Regions from separate parts of the Homo sapiens genome. Here region 2 is linked to region 1. The links come from fine-mapping of genetic effects on gene expression. A gene starts in region 1. The other region holds a variant in brackets. All regions are shown on one strand. Distances are between the middles of the regions.

Region 1 (12,403 bases):
CACCGGATGTCCTCTTTGGGGCCAAGCTGTACTCCACGTCCATCGACATGTGGTCAGCCGGCTGCATCTTTGCAGGTGATGTGCTGGGGTGTTGCAGAGGCACCTTCTTTCCCATTTGAGTTGACAAATAGGGTCTGGAGGGTCCCCTCTGGGGGAAGGGAGGGAGGCCCTGGGACTGGAGCTGGAAGGTCAGGGGGTACCTCAGAGTGAGGGGTCCTTCACATGTCACATCTTAGCCCCCTGTCTATCCCCCAGAGCTGGCCAATGCTGGGCGGCCTCTTTTTCCCGGCAATGATGTCGATGACCAGTTGAAGAGGATCTTCCGATATCCTTGCTTTCCTCTGCCTTGAGCCCTCTGGGAGGGGAGAGTCCATGGAGTTTTGAGCACAATGGGTGAGGGCAGTGATGGTGTGGGGTAGGGTGATGGGGTCTGTAGGGCTTCTCCTGAGGGCAAGGGGAGAGAGCAGGGGTGCTGGACACCCTGATTGTCACAGTGCAAATGCACACTGGAGAAGGTGTGGCTTGGAGACAGGCAGCGTGCCCTGAGGGGTGAAGCCGAGAGGGTGTCCCTCCAGGTGAGAGATGGATGCCAGGATGAAGGAGCCAAAGAGAACAGGACACATTTTGTGGGAGCAGGGCAAGGACTGTTTCATTAGGACTAGGACAGCAGCATGTGGGTTAGGTGATTGTCATGGGAAACGTGGCTGGATATGCGAGTGACCTGCCTGGGGCTGCTTCTGTCAAGCTCAAGCCGGAGGGTAAAGGGAGGGTGAGAAGTGGGCGGTGGGTATGAGGAATCCCTCCCCAGGAGGGGAAGAGGCCCTCACCCTGCCCCTGAAGATGCAGCTGTGGCCCTTTCCCAAGTGATCCTTGACTCCGTGGACACACTGCTGGGGACGCCCACCGAGGAGCAGTGGCCCTCTATGACCAAGCTGCCAGACTATAAGGTGTGATGGGGAATGTGGGGGTCATGGTTCATCAGGGTCACTCGTTTCACATTCCTAGCGCCTCCATCCCCCTCCCCCTACCTCTAGTCTGACCCTCCCTGCCTCTCCACAGCCCTATCCGATGTACCCGGCCACAACATCCCTGGTGAACGTCGTGCCCAAACTCAATGCCACAGGGAGGGATCTGCTGCAGGTAGGTGACCAGGGGTAGAGGGTGGGTCAGGACACTTGCCCAGTGGGACTACAGGAAGGCAGGGCTCTGGGCAGTGACCTGTCCTGAACCTGCCACCTCCTTTCCCCCATCTCCAGAACCTTCTGAAGTGTAACCCTGTCCAGCGTATCTCAGCAGAAGAGGCCCTGCAGCACCCCTACTTCTCCGACTTCTGTCCGCCCTAGGCCCCGGGACCCCCGGCCTCCAGGCTGGGGCCTGGCCTATTTAAGCCCCCTCTTGAGAGGGGTGAGACAGTGGGGGTGCCTGGTGCGCTGTGCTCCAGCAGTGCTGGGCCCAGCCGGGGTGGGGTGCCTGAGCCCGAATTTCTCACTCCCTTTGTGGACTTTATTTAATTTCATAAATTGGCTCCTTTCCCACAGTCTGGTTGATGTGGTGGTCAAGTGGCTCTACAGGGCCCATGGGCTGGAGGTGTCTCTGGTCTGTTACTGCCGGCCGCAATCCTGCTTCTGGCTCAAAGACAGCACCTTGCTCTTCTACTTTAAGAGGCCATGACCCTCACCCCTCACCCCTGGGGCAGGGCAGCACTGTCGCTGCACACCCCTTCCTCCCACCCTCCCTTCCTCTGCCCAGGAGGGCCTGATGTGGTCCCTCAGAGTGAGGGGAGCAAGGATGGGCTCCCCACCAGGGTGGAGAGGAAAGGGCTGGGCCTCTCCTTGTGGTTCTCCATATCTCAGGTGGATCCTCTTGTCCTTTCCCTCATCATCCCCCCCATACCAAGGCCTGCAGGCTGGCACAGGAGAGCCCCAAAGATATGGTTCCATCAGGAACACCCCCTCCCACTCCCTATTTGTCAGTTTCCCAATGTTTGGGGTCCAGTGAAAGAGAGGGAAGTTGGGCCTGTGGCTGGGGCCTGGTGTGTCCTTACTGGCAGGAAGAGGAAGGGAGGGCTCCGCCTACCCCCACCCCCACCCCCACCGTCTCAAGCCTGGGGCCTTTAGCTCTTGTGGGGAGGCTGAGGAGGCAGAACTTGTTTGTATGGAGACAGGCTGTGTGCCGCACTTGGTCCCAAATGTGGGAAAGGAGTCAGGATGTAAGGCAGGACACAGGTGTTCTTGAAAGTGGAGTCACCCCGTCTTCTCCCTGCCTCTTCTTGCTGAGCTCTGGGCAGAGTTTTCTTCCAGTTATACCTTTATTGCTGACTGTGATTCTGCACCTCACACCTAACCCGGGCTTGGAGGATACCTGTCCTCCCTTCTCTCTAAGATGTCAGTCGGCTAAACTCACTCACACTGAGGTGCAAATGACTGATAACCTCTTGCTACCATTCTCCCCTAGAGATTCATGGGGGTTCAAGGGCCCAGCTCCACATTTCAGAAGCCACGTCCAGCTGGATGATGGCTGGCAGAAGACTTCCAATGCCTAAGTTGGGCTGACCTTGGCTTGGCTAGTCTCTGCCCTGTAAGAGAAACAGCTGAGGCTGATGCATTAGGACTTTATTTGGGGTGAAGACGGAAAAGCTACGTGCAGGCTAGGCATGTCCAGGATGTCAGGGCGGGGCTCCGAGGACACAGACAGCAGGTCTAGAGCTGTGTGACAAGGTAGCAGGTGCGGTGGGAGGCGGAGAGAGTCTTGGTGACGGCACAGGGAGGGGTGGGAGGTCTTCGGAACAGAGCAGAGTGCTGGGGTGGGAACGGGCACACCCACTGTCCTGAGCCTGCCCCTGCCCTCCCTTGATTTTAGGGGGCCATTATGTGTTACCTGGGGCCCAGGCTGAGGTGGGGAACTTGGGTTCGATGGCTGCCCAGCCCTTCCTGAAGCTGTGTGAGGACGAGAGGGTCAGAGGTGGGGAGTGGTCCTCCTCCCAGGGACCAGTCGAGGTCACTGCACACCCTCCTGCCTGTTTCTCCTCAGCTGGGGCGGGATGGTGGTCTAGGCTTCAGGGGTGGGCCCTAGCACCCTTGGAGCAGGCAAGGGCTCCAGAAGAGGGGCTGTTACCAGATTGGTGCTGGAGTGCCTTTGGGAGTGCTGTCGGTTCCAGAAATATCCCAGGACCTTGTCTCGGAACACCTGGAGGCAAGCAGGATGGGAGGTGGCCAGTGCACACCTTCCCCCTCATCCTAGGGGCCCTGATTCCCACCTCCCACCCCCTGCAGTGGGGGCCCTGGCCCACCTCACAGAGGTAGTCTAGGATCTCGAGGATGGTGAGCAGGCTGGCCCCGATGAACAGCCCCATCTGGCCCCCAATGTCACCTGTGGAGACAGGGTCACCCTTCAACTTACAGCCACCTGCCTGCCCACACCCCCCCAGCCCTGGGGGCCCTGCACACACACCAAGCAGCTCTGACATCTCATAGGCCTTCTTCTGCTCCACGGTCTCATAGTTGAGGGCCTCAAAGAAGATGTCCAGGGCCAGCACGTTCTCCCTGAGGACAAGAATGGCCTCAAATGTGGGCTGGCCACCGCCTGGTGCCCACTGCTGGCAAGAAGCAGCTGTGGGTTCTCCCACTCCTTTCAAGAACCCTGGGAGAGGCCGGGCACGGTGGCTCACACCTGTACTCCCTGCACTTTGGGAGGATGAGGAGGGAGGATCTTGAGGCCAGGAGTTTGAGACCAGCCTGGGCAATACAGCGAGTCCCCTCCCCTCCCCTCCCCCGCCCCCCGCCGTCTCTGTTTTTTAAAAGTAAAGATTAAAAAATAAAAGGAAAGGAAAAAAAAACAGACCCCTGGGAGGAGGCGTCAGCATCCCCCGGGGCCAGAAAGATTAAGCAACCAGCACGGAGCCCCAGAGCCAGTGAGGCTGCGGAGGCTGCCTCCGCCCGGGCTGTGCGCACTAGGGCTACGGCCTGGCCTGCCCCGTTCCGCCCCGTCGGGAGCCCCCGGCTCGGAGGAGCCCGCCCGCCCCGCGCAGCTCACGCGATGTAGGCCTCGCTGCGGTTGAGCTTCCGGGCCAGGAAGCGCGCGGCGGCGCGGCTCGGGATCCGCACCATGGAGAGCTCCTTGGCGTAGCGCGTGCTGGCGCACGGGTTGGGGCAGGCGCACGAGTCCTTGCGAAGCATGGCATCTGCGGGCCACCGGGCCGCGTCAGACGCCCGCGGGCGGAGCGGGGCGGACGGGAGGTGGGGGAGGCTCGCCCTTACCTATGGCCGGGTGGGCACAGTTCTTGTACTGCTGGGGGCTGCACACTGGCACGTCGCCTGCGGGTACCGGGGAGATGGCTTTAGAAGCAGCCTCAGCTCCCTGGGCCCTGCCCGCCATGGGACGAAAACCCCAGCCCCTCACCTGGCATGTACACCATTCGGCAGCCGCACTTCCGAGCCACGTAGCGGGTTTCGCAGGCCAGGCGACACCCCATAAGGGTATAGGGAGGGCTGGGGCTGGGGCTGGGGGAGCCTAGGGGATCAGAGGGCTCTGGCTCATAGTTGGGGTTCAGAGATGCTGAACTGCAATCGCCCCAGGGCGGTGGCAGGAAGCTCAGCTGTGGGGGGACAGGGTTAAGGAGGCTTCCCGGAGAGCGTGAGAGGCCAGCTGGGGAGAGGCCCCTAGACAGGTCTGAGGAGCTGAGGGTTTAGGGTCTGAGGTGGTGTGGGCTTGAAGTAGTAGGTGTGGAGGCACACGGAAGGGTACCTGCTGCTGCTGGCAAGAAACAAAGGTCTGGTAGCCCGGGGACACCCCCAAGCCCAGCTGATCGATGATGGGCGGCTCCTCCTGGCTGTGGATCTGCACTCGGATCCCCACCTCAAACGGGGTCTCCTCTGTCGGGGAGGGACCTGTGAGGCCTGACCTGTGTGGTCAGGTCTCCTGCCCAACCAGACAAGACCTCTCACTGCAGCCCCTCTCCCCAGGACTGGGATGAGCCAGCCCAGCCCCTTTCACAGGTTCTGGGGGAACACCCTGACACCTCCTCTCCTCCTCTCCTTCCCCTAGCCTTTTGCACTCCATCCGTGCCCTCCCCCAGCCTCATTTGTGTGCTCCCTACCATTGTCCCTCCACACAGGTAGATATTCCTCCTGCTGCACGTCCAGCATGATGTCCAGCCCATTGCCCATGCCACCCCTAGTAGTGGTGAGCAGCTCTGCCCCATCAGCGCCAGAGTTAAATGTGTAGCACTTTCCCATCCGGGTGAAGATCTGGGGCGGGCAGACAGGGTGATGGCCATCTCCCCCAGGCAGGCACATGGTCATGGGACCTCTCCCCACCTCATGGTATGTTTGCGTCTCTTCTTTGAATACTGAAGCCCGCATCTCAATGCCCCCAGCCCCACGCTCCAGTGGGCACATGTTGCAGGACGCTCTTGGGAGCCCATCAACTCAGCTCCTCCACCCCGCCAATCCCCACCAAAGCCCAGGGCACAGCCTACAGGTTTTTCTGTGTTTCTCTGGGAACTGCAGGAAAAGGAAATGGGCCCCTGTGGCTGTCCTCCGGGGCTGGCAGTATGTTGAAAAGGCAGAGGGAAAGCAAGCCCCCCCCACCTCCTGGCAGAGATAGGGGTCTTCTGCCCCAGAATGGTCCCACCATGGAGGACCCCCAGCCCCAGGAGCAGGGCCTCCCTGGGCCAGACCTCAGGCCTAGGGCCAGCCGGGGTCAGTGTGGCCTCACATGCTCCCCTCGGGCTGGGAGACAGAGAAAGCCCCAAGGAGGACAGCTTCCTGGGCTGCACGGAGTGGCACTGGGGGGTGGGGAGTCCATGGCTGGTAGGAAGGAAGAGGTCCCCTGGCTTTGGGGGAGCCTGTGCTGGCTAGGGAATTGTGGGTGCTGGGCAGGGACTGGTCGGCTCTCTGGGTCCCTGGCAGGATAGGTAGGGAGGTCAGCTCACCGTGGTGAAGTTCTCAGGCCCACAAGGTTGGCCACGGAAGCGACAGTCCAGCAGCATGTCATCCAGGGAGTGCCCAGCACGGGCATAGAGTTGCGCCATGTCAAAGGTGGGACTGGGCATGAAGCCGGGCGGTGCAGGGGGCCGGCCCAGGGCGCGCAGGAAGGCGGCGTGCTCTGCGGGATCCAGGCCCAGCAGCGCAGACCCAGCCCAGTGCAGGTCGTTGGGCGTTAGGCGCGAGCGGCGCAGTGGGTTGATGTTGCACAGGGTGACAGCCGGGAAGATGAGCCGGTGGCTTTCTCGCTCATCCAGGGCAGTCTGGTGGTGGAACTCCCTGTAGTAGCGCACCCTCTCAGCCACCTGGTAGAGGAAGGTGGCCACTGACAGGACCACGGCCGCTGCCCACATCCCCCGGCGCAGGCTCAGGCTGCCTGGCCCGAAGACGTGGCCCAGCCCGTGCATCGAGCAGTTGCTGGCGAACACGCGGATGTCCGAGGCTGGCCGCCGGGCCTCCTCTGGGCCTGAGGTGGGCTTCATGGCCAGAACCCAGGAGCGGAACCAGCTACAGAGGCTTGGAAGAAGCGAGAGAGAGTCAGTCAGGGGGCTAAGGAGGCTAAGATAGGATTCAGGAGGCCAGGCAAGGAGAGGAGAAGAGAGGGTGGGAGACAGCCAAGGTTGGAAGGCAGGGAGGCACTAGCCTGGCAGGATTGGAGGAGGTGATCTGGCCGGTCAGGTCCCACTGTTCCTTCCCGAGGAACAGGCGGTGGCTCCACTGGGCTAGGCACTGGGCTGGGGACTCCGCAGCAGACCAGGTGGGACGTAGCTGACCGTGGCAGGCAGGGGCTGCGGAGCGGTGCTGAGCCGGCGGTGCTGAGCCGGCGCTGCTGCAGAGGATTGGGTTTCAGCAGTAGGGGGGAAAGGGGGCCGACAGAGCAGTCTGGGGGGTAGGAGAGGTCCCTAGGGCCCCAGGCTGAGCCATTAGTGCAGCATGGAGGGGGGCATGGCTGTCCAAGACGAGAGGCGCCAGGAGGAAACCGCAGTAATCCTAGGGAGAGCTTGAGAAAAGCCCAGAGGTAGATTGGGCCTGGAGATGCCTTGGGGCCCCCTAGGCTCCCAGTTGCAACCCCTGTACACTGGCCGCGAGGGTCAGTCGCTGACCCCTGGCCTAGCTCCTCTCTCCTTTTGCCTCTGCGGCCTTCCCTCTAGCTTCACCCAGGATCTGTTCCTTCACGAATACCAGAGCTGGCTCTTGGCCAAGCTGGGAAATGGTTGGAAGGCTGGCATCAGCAGATCTCTTCTTTCTGTGCCCCTAGCATCTCAGCCTACACTGGATGGCCAGGGCACTCTTCATGTCCCACTTCCAGGGCCCGTCTGTTTCCTAAGTGTCCCTCTCTCCCTAGGGAGTCAAAGCCTACCTCCCCACACTCAGGCCTCTGAGGATGTTGGCCTCTACAATGGTTATGGGCTCACCTGCCACCCCAGGTAGAACATGGGTGCCCCACCTGCCACCCTCCCGGGTACCACGGGTACCCCACCTGCCATCTCAGGCACAACATGGGTATTCTGTGATTTCCCATCTTACGCTGCTATATCCAGGACCTGGAAAACCTACATTTTTCCAAAGGGCTGCATACCACCCATTATGTGCACATACCATAGTTTATTTAATGACTCCCCCACTGATGGGCACTGGGGGTGTCCAGTCTTTCCATTACAAACAATGTTGCCGTATCATCACACAGATGTGAACTCCCAGGACTTTGGTGGGCTTTTTTTGACCATGAGTGGTAGAAACATGGTTCCACCAGCCAAACGTGTGCACACACCATGCTGCAACTGCTGGGCCACCTGTCTGTCCTCCCAACAGGACACAAGCTTCATGGGGGCAGGGACTGTCCTCATTCCCCATCGTGGGCTCAATGGCACATGACAGGTGCTTGATTAATAAACACTTTGGAAGGACTGAGTACCATGGTTACAGCACAGGCGTACCAGCTCCCCAGAGCCACAGTGCCATGCTTTGCAAGTATTTACTGTAGATGATCCCACTCACACTCTCAAAACAGGCATTCAGCATCAAGCACAGCTAGGCTCCCACTCTCCACTGTGGAGCGAAGGCCGAGGCGAGGTTAGGAAGACGGCGCGGCTCCTGCGGTCTAGCTCTTCCAGCTGGACTAGCCAAGGGGTTTCACTGCTTCTCTAGGGGGCGGGTGAAGGGCTGGATTTAAAGAAGCCGCCCAGAAGATATAAATCTGGTGTCAGAGGCATTTTGGGCAGCCTGAGGCTGATGACTGAGTGGGTGAAGCAGGAACCACCTTGGCTGGCTGCCTGGTGAGGGAGGGGTCAGGCCAACAAGCAGGGCCCCAGCAGGGCTTGTGGACTTGCCAGCTGAGGCCCTACTCTGGGCTGCCCTAAGGAGGGGTTTAGCTGTGAACCAGCCCCAGGCTCTGCTCCTGGACCTCCACTGCTTAAAGACACAGCCTCTGATCTGTCAGGAAGTGGGATATCAAATCAGGGTGGATGTGGGCCTGGGGTTTTTGGATGGCTTGTCCCCAAAGCACCATCTAGTTCTAAACCACACCCACAAGAGCCCGTGGGTCCCACTCTGGCTCCTGCACGCAAACTTGAGCCACTGCTGCCTCTTCCAGGCTGGCCTCCCAGCAGCACCAGCTGCTCCATCAATGCACTGTATCACACCCCTGAAAGAGGGTACCACCCTTCTTTACACAGGGTAAATCCAGAATGCTTGCCTGGCTGTGAAGGTGCATTGCAGGTACCACCTCTTCTCCTGCCCAGGGGAACAGGGCACCGTGTAGTCCCACAGCCTGGATGTGGCTGGATAGGGGAAGGATCCCAGTAGGAAGTGACAGCGGCACCAACATGGGGAGGGCTGATGCATCTGCAGCAGTGCAGGGACACGAGGTCCTGCTGGGGCACCAGTTCAGCCAAGGACCTACTTGTGTGCCTTTCCAGGCCCCTCAGAAGCCAGCTGGAGCCTAGCCCCCTCATCCACAGTCTCAGGGCCACAGGCGCCCATCACTCAGGATGTCTGCCTTCCCCTTTCAAGGTGCGCCTCCCAGAACCTGCTGGGGATGCTGGCCTGTCCACAGCCGCACCCTCCTGGACCGATTCTGTACTGGATTCTGCAGTAGCTGCTCCATTTAGCTCTGTACTCGTCAGCACTGTGGGCAGGAAGCAGAGAGCTCCAGGTGGGCATCAGCCCCTCCCATCTCCTTCAGTGCTGGGTGTTCTTGGTGTAGATGGAGGCTGGTTCACAATCTCAGTGGGTGAAAGACGCCAGGCACACAGGGCAGGGCCGGTGGAAGACAGCCAGGCAGGCTGGCGCTTCTCGTGGGAACTGGCCATTGTGGCCCCGTCCCTCCTACCCTGACCCAAGTGTTGGGCCCTGTTAGGCCTGTGTCCCTTGTGGGTGGGGAGGGGAGGTGAAATCTAGAAATCAGGACTGTGTTCACTGTGCAGGGAGAAAGGAGGGAGGTTGTTTGGAAGATGGGGACTGTGGGTCCCGGGGTGAGCCAGGGGATAGGCTCCTTCTCCCATGGAGGGAGTGGGGACACAGGAGAGGGAGTCAGTCGCCAGTCTAGGGAAGTGAGGTCCTAGCAAGGGTGTGGGAAGAGCCTAGGTTTGAATTCCCAGGCCCACTTCCAGACCCTGATTTTTAAAAATTCCCTGGAGCTACTGTAGGCCTGGCCAATTTGAAGCTGCTGGGTGGGGCAGGGAGACTGGCCAGAACGTCTCTTGAGAGGTCTGGAGGGGTCTGGGCAAAGGGAGAATAGAGTGGAGGTGTCTCGTGGAACTCTGTCTCTGCCCATTGCAGCCCAATGACTCTGGCAGACTCTGGTGGGAGGGAGGCAGCCGGCAGGACTGGGGAGGGGAGGGAGGGATTGGCCTCCCCTGCCAGCTGCTCGGCCCCGGCTTTATTGTGAGCAGGAGCAGCCGCAGCGACTCTCCACATGCTGGCCCTCCTGGGGGCTCAGTCCCCAGTAGGCTCCCCCAGGCTGAGCCCCAGCCCTAACACTGATGCTTGGCAGCGACCACACCTCAGGGGGCCCTTCTCAGGACTTGTGCTGGTGGCTCCTGGGGCCTTCTGGCTTTTTGGGCGGTGGGGCCGCTGTCCTCGGGGCATCCAGGGCCTGCCTCCGGATGAGCTCGGCGTATAGCCCGCCTTTCTTCAGGAGCTCTTCATGTGTCCCAGCCTGGAAGATGGGAGGGAAGGGCGGATGGTTGCTCCAAGGCATGCAGGCTTCAGAACCCTCAGAGAGCTGAGCCTCTCTATCAGCCATTGGGCCCATGGTCACTTAGGCCGGTGTCCCTTCTGGGGACACTCTGAAACCAATGCCCAATCTGAAAGGAACCGCCACTGGCATGCTGCATTAGTTACTGCCACTTCCTTACTTAGCTGAATTTTGGAAGAACATGATTCCCTCTGTCCCCCTTACAGAGCCCAAGGCTCCAACTCAGGATCCGTCTCCCTGCACGAGCCCCTCAGCCTTGGCTTGAATGAGTGGCTGTTAGCCAACGCCACACGGCCTCTGGGGTCCTACTCCTGACTCCCTGCACAGGTTCCTTGGCGCTGCTTCTCCTGCACCTGATACCCTGGGCAGCTAGCCCTGCTCCTTGCTCCCAGCACCATACTCTGAGTATGTTTCCTTTTTGTTTTTTGAGACAGGGTCTCATTCTGATGCCAGGCTGGAGCGCAATGGCACAATCATTGTTCACTGCAGCCTCAACCTCTGGGGCTCAAGTAATCCTCCCGCCTCCGCCTCCAGAGTAGCTGGGAGTACAGGTGCATGCCACCACATCCGGCTAATTTTTTTTTTTTGGTATTTTGTAGAGACAGGGTCCCGCTATGCTGCCCAGGCTAGCCTCAAGAGATCCTTCTGCCTTGGCTTCCCAAAGTGCTGGGATTACAGGCACCCGGCTAGTACTTTTCCTTTTGATCCTGGGAGCTGATGGTGCAATTATACTATCCCAGGGGACAGAAGAAGAAACTGAGGGCCTGAGAGGCCAGGGCTTGGCTGAATGCAGGAACTCCTGACTCTATATGGGACGCTGCTTCCAGAATATAGCCCCCAAGGCCCTGGGGCCAGGCCACAACTTCATATAACTCATTGCAGCATTGTGCCACTGTCCGTGATGAAGCCATCCTCAACCCACTGATCCACGCCCCCAGGACAACTAACCTCCCAGACACGGCCATCGGCCATGACGACAATGCAGTGGGCCCCACGGACAGTGCTGAGCCGGTGGGCAATTACCAGCACCGTGCGGCCTGCACTGGCCCGGTCCAGGGCCTCCTGTACAACCCGCTCGGACTCTGCATCCAGCGCGCTGGTAGCTTCATCCAGTATCAGCACCGTGGGCTGCTTGATAAGGGCTCGGGCGATGGCCAGGCGCTGCTTCTGGCCCCCAGACAGGGTAGTGCCCCGTTCACCTGGGAAGGGAGGGGCAGGGCAGGAGCCTGAAGCTGTGCACTTGAGGGTGGCCCACAAAGGGGCACAGGGTCCTTCCTGAACGCCCATCAAGATCCTCTAAGTGCCCCTCTCAGCACTGTGCACCCTCCTCCTGCCTCTGACCCCCACCCCGCACTGTGCATCCTCCTCCTGCCTCTGACCCCCCACCCCACACCGTGCACCCTCCTCCTGCCTCTGACCCCCACCCCGCACTGTGCACCCTCCTCCTGCCTCTGACCCCCCACCCCGCACTGTGCACCCTCGTCCTGCCTCTGACCCTCTACCCCGCACTGTGTACGCTCGTCCTGCCTCTGACCCTCCACCTTGCACTGTGCACCCTAGTCCTGCCTCTGACCCTCCACCCCACACTGTGCACCCTAGTCCTGTCTCTGACCCTCCACCCCGCACTGTGCACCCTAGTCCTGTCTCTGACCCTCCACCCCACACTGTGCACCCTAGTCCTGTCTCTGACCCTCCACCCCGCACTGTGCACCCTAGTCCTGTCTCTGACCCCCACCCCGCACTGTGCACCCTCCTCCTGCCTCTGACCCCCCACCCCACACTGTGTACACTCCTCCTCTGGGTTCCCCCTGCACTGGCTCATCCCACCTCTGGGTCCCTCAGCCACTGTGCACACTTGCCCTGCCTCTGAGGGTGGTGTGACACCGCCAGCAGGGCTTGGTGCACTCCAAGGGAGTTGCCAAATGCCCCTCCCCAGCCATGGCAGTGCCTCAGGCCAGGATGACCCACACCCTGCCCTGTGCCTGCAGTTCCAAGCCACCTTCCCAGCCTCCCGGGTCTCTGTGGCTGTGGGGAACATCCAGCACCCAAACATGGGCTCTGGGGTCCAGTGACTCCAGGGAGGTGGGATTCGAAGCCCACAGAGGACAGCACAAGTGGCAGCCTGGGAGCCAAAAAGAACCTCAAGGTGACAGCAGGGTGACAGGTCAGTAAGGACGCAGCCCCAAGAAGGCCCAAATGAGCAGAAAGTACTAGGATCAGA
Region 2 (8,000 bases), 49 kb after region 1:
ATGGCACTTGAATATACCACAATTTATCAGTATTTGTCGATGGTCATTTGAATTGTTTCCAGTGTGGGGTATTACAAACAAATTTGCTATAAATATTCCTTATTTTTAGTGAATATACCCCATTTTCTGTGAGCTGTATTCCTAGATTTGTTAAAAATTTGGGATAAAATTAACATACATTGAACTGCACAGATGTTAAAGGGCAGTTTAATTTGCTTTGCTGTTTGACAGTTTTATTTTATTTATTTGTATTTTATTTTAAGTAGAATTCTTGCTCTGTCACCCAGGCTGGAGTGCAGTGGCGTGATCTCGGCTCACTGCAACCTCCACCTCCCAGGTTCAAGCAATTCTCCCGCCTAGCCTCCTGAGTAGCTAGGACTATAGGCGTGCGCCACCATGCCCAGCTAATTTTTGTATTTTTAGTAGAGACAGGGTTTTGCCATGTTGGCCAGGCTGGTCTTGAGCTTCTGACCTCAAGTGATCCACCCACCTGGGCCTCCCAAAGTGCTGGGATCACAGGCGTGAGCCACCGCGCCTGGCCTGGCAGTTTTATTTTTTAAAAAAGTGAAAGATTAAACATGCATCTACCCTATGACCTACCAATTCTACTCCTAGGTATTTACCCAAGAGAAATAAAAACATAAGCCCACAAAAGCCGGGTACAAGAATGTTCATAACAGGTTTATTCATAATAGCCCCGACCTGGAAACAGCCCAAGTGTCACCAACAAGAGAATGGGTAAACAAACTGGGGATATTCACACAATGAACGGCACTCAGCAGCAGAATGAGTGAAATACTGAGTCACGCAGCAACACGAGTGCGCCTCAAAAACAGCCTCAGCAGGAGACGCCGCAACACTGCGTGCTTCCATCTAGGTGCCGTTCTAGAGCAGGCGAAACTATTCTGTGGTGACAGACACTTCTGGCAGGGAGACAGACTGGGAAGGGATTCACGTGAGGAACTGATGAGGGAACTTTCCAGGGTGGTGAAAATGTGCTATGCCTTGTGAAGGCTGTAGGTTATATGGGTGTCTATACACCTTTATGCTAAAAAAAAGTCAATTGCTGGTGCTATTTTTCTTGAAAAGGTAGGTCAGAATGAGGGCTGAAACGGACACTAAGGCAGCAAAAAGGGTTTCACGAGATTCCAACTTGCTTAAGATACTGAGGGCCAGGTGCAGTGGCTCACGTCTATAATCGCAGCACTTTGGGAGGCCGAGGCAGGTGGATTGCTTGAACCCAGGAGTTAGAGACCAGCCTGGGCAACATGGCGAAACCCCATCTCTATAAAAAATACAAAAATTAGCTAGGCATCATGGCATGCGCCTGTAGTCCCAACTACTTGGGAGGTTGAAGTGGGAGGATTGCTTGAGTCTAGGAGGTTGAGGCTGCAGTGAGCCGTGATTGTACTACTGCACTCCAGCCTGGGCCACAAAGTGAGACCCTGTCTCAAAGGAAAAAAGAAAAAAGAGTACTGAGGAAGTACTTAGTGCTAATAAGGCCTTTAACACCTAGAAGCTGGAGCAGGTAAGACTCAGAAATGAGCCTAGCCTGGGGCACCTCAGAGATACCTAAGCTTGCAAGAGAAGGAATTCAATGATGGTACTCTAGCTTTGTGTTTCTTTTTAAAAAGTGAAGTTATTTAATCTATGTTGGCATCTAAACAGCGCTCAATTTCTTCTTTTGAAAAAGGAGCCTGCGGCAGGAGGATCTCTTGAGGCTAGGAGTTCAAGGCCAGCCTGGGCAACGTAAATAGGTTCTCAAAATAAATAAAACAAATAAAATAAAATGCTGGAATAGTGTTGCACATGTTGTAAATGTACAGCTCTGTGGATTTTTACAAACTGAACACACCTGTGTAACCAGTATCCCATTAAGAAACATTACCCGCATCCTAGAAGCCGCCCTCAGTGACGTATCCCTGTTTTTCTTGTCAGTGCCCGAGCACAGTCTAACCTCTTGGTCAGCCAGGATGTGCCTTCCTTGTATTAAAAACTTGCACTGATAATGGAAATGACTTGGGGACGCGCAGTTAAGCAAATGTGCTTGCAGGGAGGCAGCCACATGGGTGGGCTGGGAGCGTAGCTTGTGTGGGGTTTCAGGCTCCAGGGGTCTCTTAGCATCTCCCTTTCCATCCTGGCGTGTGTGTGTGTGTGTGTGTGTGTGTGTGTGTGTGTGTGTGTGTGTGTGTGTGTGTGTGTGTGTGTGTGTTGGGCAGAGGTTCCTGCCCAGTCACTCCAATTCTGAGTCTCTCCTCATTCCCAGCAGCCCCTTTCCTGGAAGTTCTCACCTCTCCATTCTCCGGGGGATCCCCATTCCCAAATGTGCTGGTTACCACCAGCACCAGCGTCTCGTGTTCGAGGGACACCACGTCATACTCATCCATACACAGGACCTGTGGGTGGGAAGACAGATGTCCTGGGTGCTGTGGCCCCCGGAGGCCCTGCCCTCCTCACTCTGGCCTCCCTGGCAGTGCAAGATTCAGGCCCCAACTTGATCTCTGAACACCTGTGGTTCCGGGTTCCTCATGAGTCCTGACTTGTAACACTTCCTGTCCTCCAGGGCACCCCTGAAGATGCTGATAGAGCCCCCTCTTTCTAGCTCCCTGCTCCCCTGGGCTCAGCCCTACCCGGGGATCAAAAGCCTTCCGGAAGAGTCTCCCCAGCTGCTGTGCGTAGCTCTGGGCCCGGCCGGTCTCGGAGCCATACAGGATTGTCGCCTTCACTCGCTTCGCCATCACCGTGCCCATGAGCGAGGCGGAGATCTTCACGGCGCTGCGGGAGAGGAAGGTGTGAGGGTGTCCTGGGTGCACAGAGGCAGGGCCTCCCCAGGCAAGGGTCCAACCCCCTCACAACAGGGTTTTGGGATACTGAGTGGTAGGCCCAGAACACTGCTGGGGCAGGGTCCCCCAGGGTGTGTGGGGGAGAGTGGGGCCCCCAGGGTGTGTGTGGGAGAGCGGGGCTCCCAGGGGACCCACTTGGCCACTTCTTTAAAGGTCTTCTTCCTGGTGATGCCGGTGCCCTTGGCGGCACTCCCCTTCCAGGGGTCTGGCTGCAGAGAGATGATGGGGTTGGGAGGGGAGGTAAAGAAAAGGAAAGGTTAGAGGTCCCCAGGGGCTGCTTAGAATTAGAGCTGGGCCCAGGCTGGCAGAGCCAGTTAGGGTGGGCACCTGGTAGCGGAAGGCCGGGGACAGGAAATAGTTGACCATCTCCTGATGGAAAACAGGAGTGAGGCTGCCCGAGATGGGGGGCACGATCCAGGCCCAGTCTGCAGGGCAGCCCCCCCTGGCCTTCTGCTCATTCTCCAGGTGCTTCATGAAAGAGGCCGTGGCGG[C/T]GTGGTGGTCCACGATGGTGACTTTGGCTAGCTGGAAGGGAGAGAGAGGGGGAGAGGCTCAAACCAGACCCACAGACCTCGCCCATTCTTCCTCCACCACTCCGGTCACCCCAAACCACATGTGCCCTCGATTACCCCATATCTAACACACCCTGTGTCCCCTCAAACCACAATGTCACCCTCACCCCAAACCACATCATGCATGGTCATGCTGCAGGTTCAACATGCAACAAGCAGCTCTAATCTCCAGCATCTGCATGCCTGGTCCCCAAACCAAATAGCCCACAGAAATTCTCAGCAGGCCCCGGCTTCCTCAAACTACGACTCCTGGTGTGCCCTTGATCCTGGTATTTGTTTCCAGGATCCAGCGGGTCCCACAAACTGCAATACCCAATATGCCCTGAGAATCAGCATGACTGGGCATGCAGTAAACAGCAAGGTCCCTGGCACACAGTAAGCCACCAGATGACAGCGCCTGGAATAGTACCTGCCCTGTCCCCGAACCGCAGGCCAGTGTGCGCCATGGCACTGGGACTACGGAACTTCTTCTGCCTGTCCAAATCCTGCCCTAGTTTCTAAATGGCTGCCTCTCCTCCATCCCCCGCCCCTGCTGCCCCCGTATGCAAACCCTTTGCCTTCCTGGCCAGTCTGGGCCTCTGCACCTGGTAACTGTGCAGCACGGCCACGTTGATTTCCACTGCTGCCTTGTCTTTCCACAGGGACGAGGTGGTCCGGGTATCCAGGTCCATGCAGACAGCCACATCCTGGGGCAGAAGGGTGTGTGGCATCGGTAGGGACAGAGGTGATCACGGGGGTGGGGTGGGGAGACTATCTCTGTTTCCCGTACATGGCTGGAAGGAGTGAGGTGAGTGGTGTCCATTGGGAGGCCTGGCTGCCTAGGGGGCTGGTTCAGGTTTTTGCCTGCGAAGGCACCTCAGAGCAGAGAGGGACTTTGGGCCAGTCGCTCCTCAGCTCCAGGCTTTAATTTCTCATCTCTAAAATGGGTCTTAACCTTTGCCGAGTCAAGGTCCCCTTTGAGAATCTGATGAAAGCTCTAGAGCTATGGGTCCTATGCCTGAAAGAACAACTACATGTTCACACCCATCCCCATGCCCCCCTCACCCACCCACTCACACCCACACCCACCCACAAACCCACACACTCACACCCACCCACCCCCACAAACCCACAATTTCACACTCACCGCCTACACACATCCACACTCACACCCACATACCTACACTCTCACACTCGCCCCTACACACCCCACAAACCCACACTCGCCTACCCCTACAAGCCCACACACACCCCCTACACACCCCACAAACCCACACTCACCTACCCCTACAAACTCACACACACTCACCCCTACACACCCCACAAACCCACACTCGCCTACCCCTACAAACTCACACACACTCACCCCTACACACCCCACAAACCCACACTCGCCTACCCCTACAAACCCACACACACTCACCCCTACACACCCCACAAACCCACAGTCACCTACCCCCACAAACCCACAGTCTCACAGTCACTGCCTATACACACCCACAAACCCACACCCACCTACCCCCACACACCCACACTCACCCACCCCTACAAACCCACAGTCTCACACCCACTACACACCCCACAAGCCCACACTCTCACCCACTGCACACCCCAGAAACCCACACTCTCACACTCACCCACTCACACCCCCACACACACCCCTGCCACCCCCTACCCCTTTGCTTCAGTGGTTCTAGAGCTTGTCCTCAGTTCCCATTTAGGAGGCAACCCTGGACCTGCTCTGATTGTCCCCGTGGCTGGCATTTTGGGGATGGAGTGAGAGCCAGACTCCTGCCTTGGACAGGTGCATTCGGTGCCCGAGCCCCATCCCGCACCTCACCTCCAGGATGTTGTAGCGGTGAGGGTCACACAGGTTCCTCGTGCCGATCTCAGTGCTCATGTACCAGCCACTGAAGGGGGCTGCGGGGAACTCCAGGCCCCCAATTTCCAGCAGCATGTTGGACACTGCCGGGAGGGCGTACCAGCGCAGGCCCAGGGCTGCAAACCACTCCAGCCTGGGGGTGTTGGGGTGTGGGATCAGCACCCCCTTGCAGGCCCTTCTTGAGAGGCTCAGGGATGGCCCCCTCCATCCCACCCAGTCAATCCCTTTGGTGCTCACGTGGGGTGCTCCAGGGGCACCTCAAGGACCAGCTCGGGGGGCAGAAGGAAGAGTTCTGGGGGATCATCTGGGGCCTGCAGCAGCAGGGGCAGCACGTCGAAGCGACCGTTTCCTGGGGTCCAGCCGTGCTGAATGCAGAGCTGTGGGGAGTGGGCCAGAGGGGGTTCTGGGGCTGAGCCTCATGCCCTCCTCAGGGACCCCTCCATCCACTGTCTCCTGCCTTCATCTCCAGGGTCCCTCATTGGCTGGGTCTCCGTGACCACCCAGGCACCCCTCCTTTGGTGTTTTTCATCCTTTATCTCACCGAGGCTCCCCTCTTCCTGCCTGGATCCCCCGAGCCTTCTCCCACTGGTTTCCTCATTCTCCACCTTGGGGACACCCTCATGGGTGGCCCTCGGTGCCCACCTCGGTGATCTCCACGTTGGCTGGGTCCCCCCGCACAGAGCCATCCTGCTGCCGGTAGCCCGCGTAGCGCACCAGCTGGCTGTTCCAGATTCGGAAGTCTCCTCGGCCAGGGCAGCGCTGCGGGAACACTGTGATGGCCGAGCTGGCACGCATGGGGAAAGAGCTGGTCAGAGCCCCGCCTTCCCTGCCTTGGGGAAGAAGGCTGGGGCCTGGCATGGTGGGGGGCACTCACCGAAGGTTGCCCCGGTTGGTGGCATACTTGATGTGGTTGCAGATGTAGGTGAACATTTCCTGTGCAGACCTGCAGTCCCGGGCATCGAACACCTGAGCCAGCCGAGGCAGCGGGAGAGGAGGGTGAGGAGAGAGACGGGGGGTCTTGAGTATCAGCTCCAGAGGAGCTGCTGGTGAGGAGGCAGGGGCCATGGTTCACTCCATGGCGCCCTCCTGACCATTGGCAGCCACACTGATCCCTTCCTGCCCTGCTCTCTGACATATGTAGCACCATCCGGGCTGCTTCTCATCTCCTCCCTGGGCCAGGTGTCTCCCCATCCCTATGGAAGCTGACTTGGTATCCAGTACAGAGGAGGGACTCGGCCTCTGCCAAACTGATGCTTGGGTTAGGCACCAACGGATGTCTAAGAGGCCGCCTAGGAGTGTGGGCAGCAAATCCCCCATGATCCATGGCATTCAAGAAAGGACGGGTGATTCTCTTTGAGCACATGGATGGTGGGAAGGGAAGGCTGCACCAGAGGCCTCCTAGGACCCTGCTCATCCTGACATTCTGAGTGGAGGCCCCAGGAGGAGGCTGGGAGGTCCCACTCCTGCCTGAGGGAGGAGGAAACATGTGTCAGTGACAGGGGCAGGGGAGTGGCAGGGACCAACCTGGGGTCAAGGGAGGGACGCAGCTCTGAGTGGGGTCCACTATGGCAGCTCAGATGGATCGAAGTTGAGCTAAAGCTTTGAATGACTTAGAGGGTCAGGCAAGTGTCAGATAGGATTGTTTTTATTTTAGTTGAGGTTCCTTTGGGATTCACTGGGCACGTGGCTTTATTTCAAACTCTTTGGCGGCCAGTGATGGTGAAGGAGGCCAAGGCCATGGGACCAAGTCCCCCATGGGGCAGCTTGCTTCTCTTAGTGCTGTGGTCACAGGCGTTCCAGTAACTAAGGCCAGCCCCGAGTCTGTGGGCTGGGGTGTGAGGGAGGGTGCGGGCCGAAGCAGGGGAACTGGGGTAGCAGTGGGTGTGGGTGAGGGGCTGCACTGGACTGGCCTGGCGGGAGAAGCCTTCTCTCTTGGGGGAGAAGCAGCAGCCAGGGCTTTTCCAGGAGGCTGCTCCTGCTACTGACAGCACCGCCCAGGGAAGCTCCGCTCAGCTGTCCTCACCCCCGCAGCAGGTCTAGACTTCCTCACCCCCGCAGCAGGTCTAGACTTCCTCACCCCTGCAGCAGGTCTAGACTTCCTCACCCCTGCAGCAGGTCTAGACTTCCTCACCCCTGCAGCAGGTCTAGACTTCTTTCCCCTCCTCCAGCCAAGGCACTACCATAGGGCCTGATAACCAGGTCTTCACTACTGGGCTGAGGTTCCCCTGGGTGCTGAGGGTGGGGCAGTCCCCCTACCTTTCCAGTCTCTAAGGGAAAAGGCAAGGATCTCCCCCACAGTTTGGGACCTCCCAGCCCCCGGGAAGCCTTAGGAACTGCCCCGCCACCCCGCTCCCCTTTTGGTAGCGCCCGGGTCTCTCAGTCGCTGGCCAGCCGCACCTGCAGCTTCCCCCACTGGATCCGGCCCACGCAGCGGGGAGCGTTGCGCCAGGCCTGCTTAGCCCCGAACACCAGCTCGCTCTCCCTAAGCTGGTAGGTGCCTGTGGCTGCCACCTCGGCTTCCACCTCTTGAAGCCGCTGTTCGTGGGCCTGGGAGCCGCTCCTGGGGAGGAGAGGGGTGGGAAGGGGACAAGCAGGAAGTTGTGTGGGACAGGGAGGCCCTCCTCCAGGCTTTGTGCAAGTGCTGGGGGAGGGCGGGAGGGGCCCACGTGGTGTTAGGATCTGGGAAGGGAGGGGGTCATGGGAAGGTCGTCACGGGGTTTCTGGGGC

What was found. PIP is the estimated chance that this variant, and not a neighbour inherited with it, causes the effect.
Region 2: its variant is fine-mapped to the expression of ASIC3 in whole blood (TOPMed, PIP above 0.99).

The regions. Positions count from the first base shown.
Region 1 is chr7:151,042,949-151,055,351 of GRCh38, reverse strand. ASIC3 (acid sensing ion channel subunit 3) reads right to left here and starts at 6,821. Exons shown (of 11, transcript NM_004769.4): 1 at 5,933-6,821; 2 at 5,096-5,246; 3 at 4,744-4,871; 4 at 4,399-4,594; 5 at 4,257-4,313; 6 at 4,033-4,180; 7 at 3,451-3,542; 8 at 3,290-3,369; 9 at 3,115-3,186; 10 at 2,878-2,936; 11 at 2,598-2,778. The coding sequence starts at 6,466. The coding sequence ends at 2,700. It overlaps ABCB8 (ATP binding cassette subfamily B member 8), which reads right to left. Exons shown (of 16, transcript NM_007188.5): 15 at 11,131-11,381; 16 at 7,570-10,143. The coding sequence ends at 10,003. It overlaps CDK5 (cyclin dependent kinase 5), which reads left to right. Exons shown (of 12, transcript NM_004935.4): 8 at 1-75; 9 at 256-325; 10 at 887-947; 11 at 1,060-1,140; 12 at 1,257-1,537. The coding sequence ends at 1,343. RefSeq lists enhancers at 1,303-1,803, 3,237-3,815, 4,671-5,309 and a silencer at 4,129-4,238.
Region 2 is chr7:150,996,596-151,004,595 of GRCh38, reverse strand. It overlaps NOS3 (nitric oxide synthase 3), which reads right to left. Exons shown (of 27, transcript NM_000603.5): 5 at 7,671-7,833; 6 at 6,148-6,239; 7 at 5,916-6,057; 8 at 5,511-5,650; 9 at 5,232-5,406; 10 at 3,997-4,098; 11 at 3,171-3,365; 12 at 2,979-3,052; 13 at 2,631-2,775; 14 at 2,292-2,396. Among named protein-coding and RNA genes, the nearest start is that of NOS3, 9.6 kb to the right of the region's middle. RefSeq lists enhancers at 2,377-2,877, 2,155-3,354 and a silencer at 4,208-4,370. The variant C/T (reference allele first, on the strand shown) is at 3,335.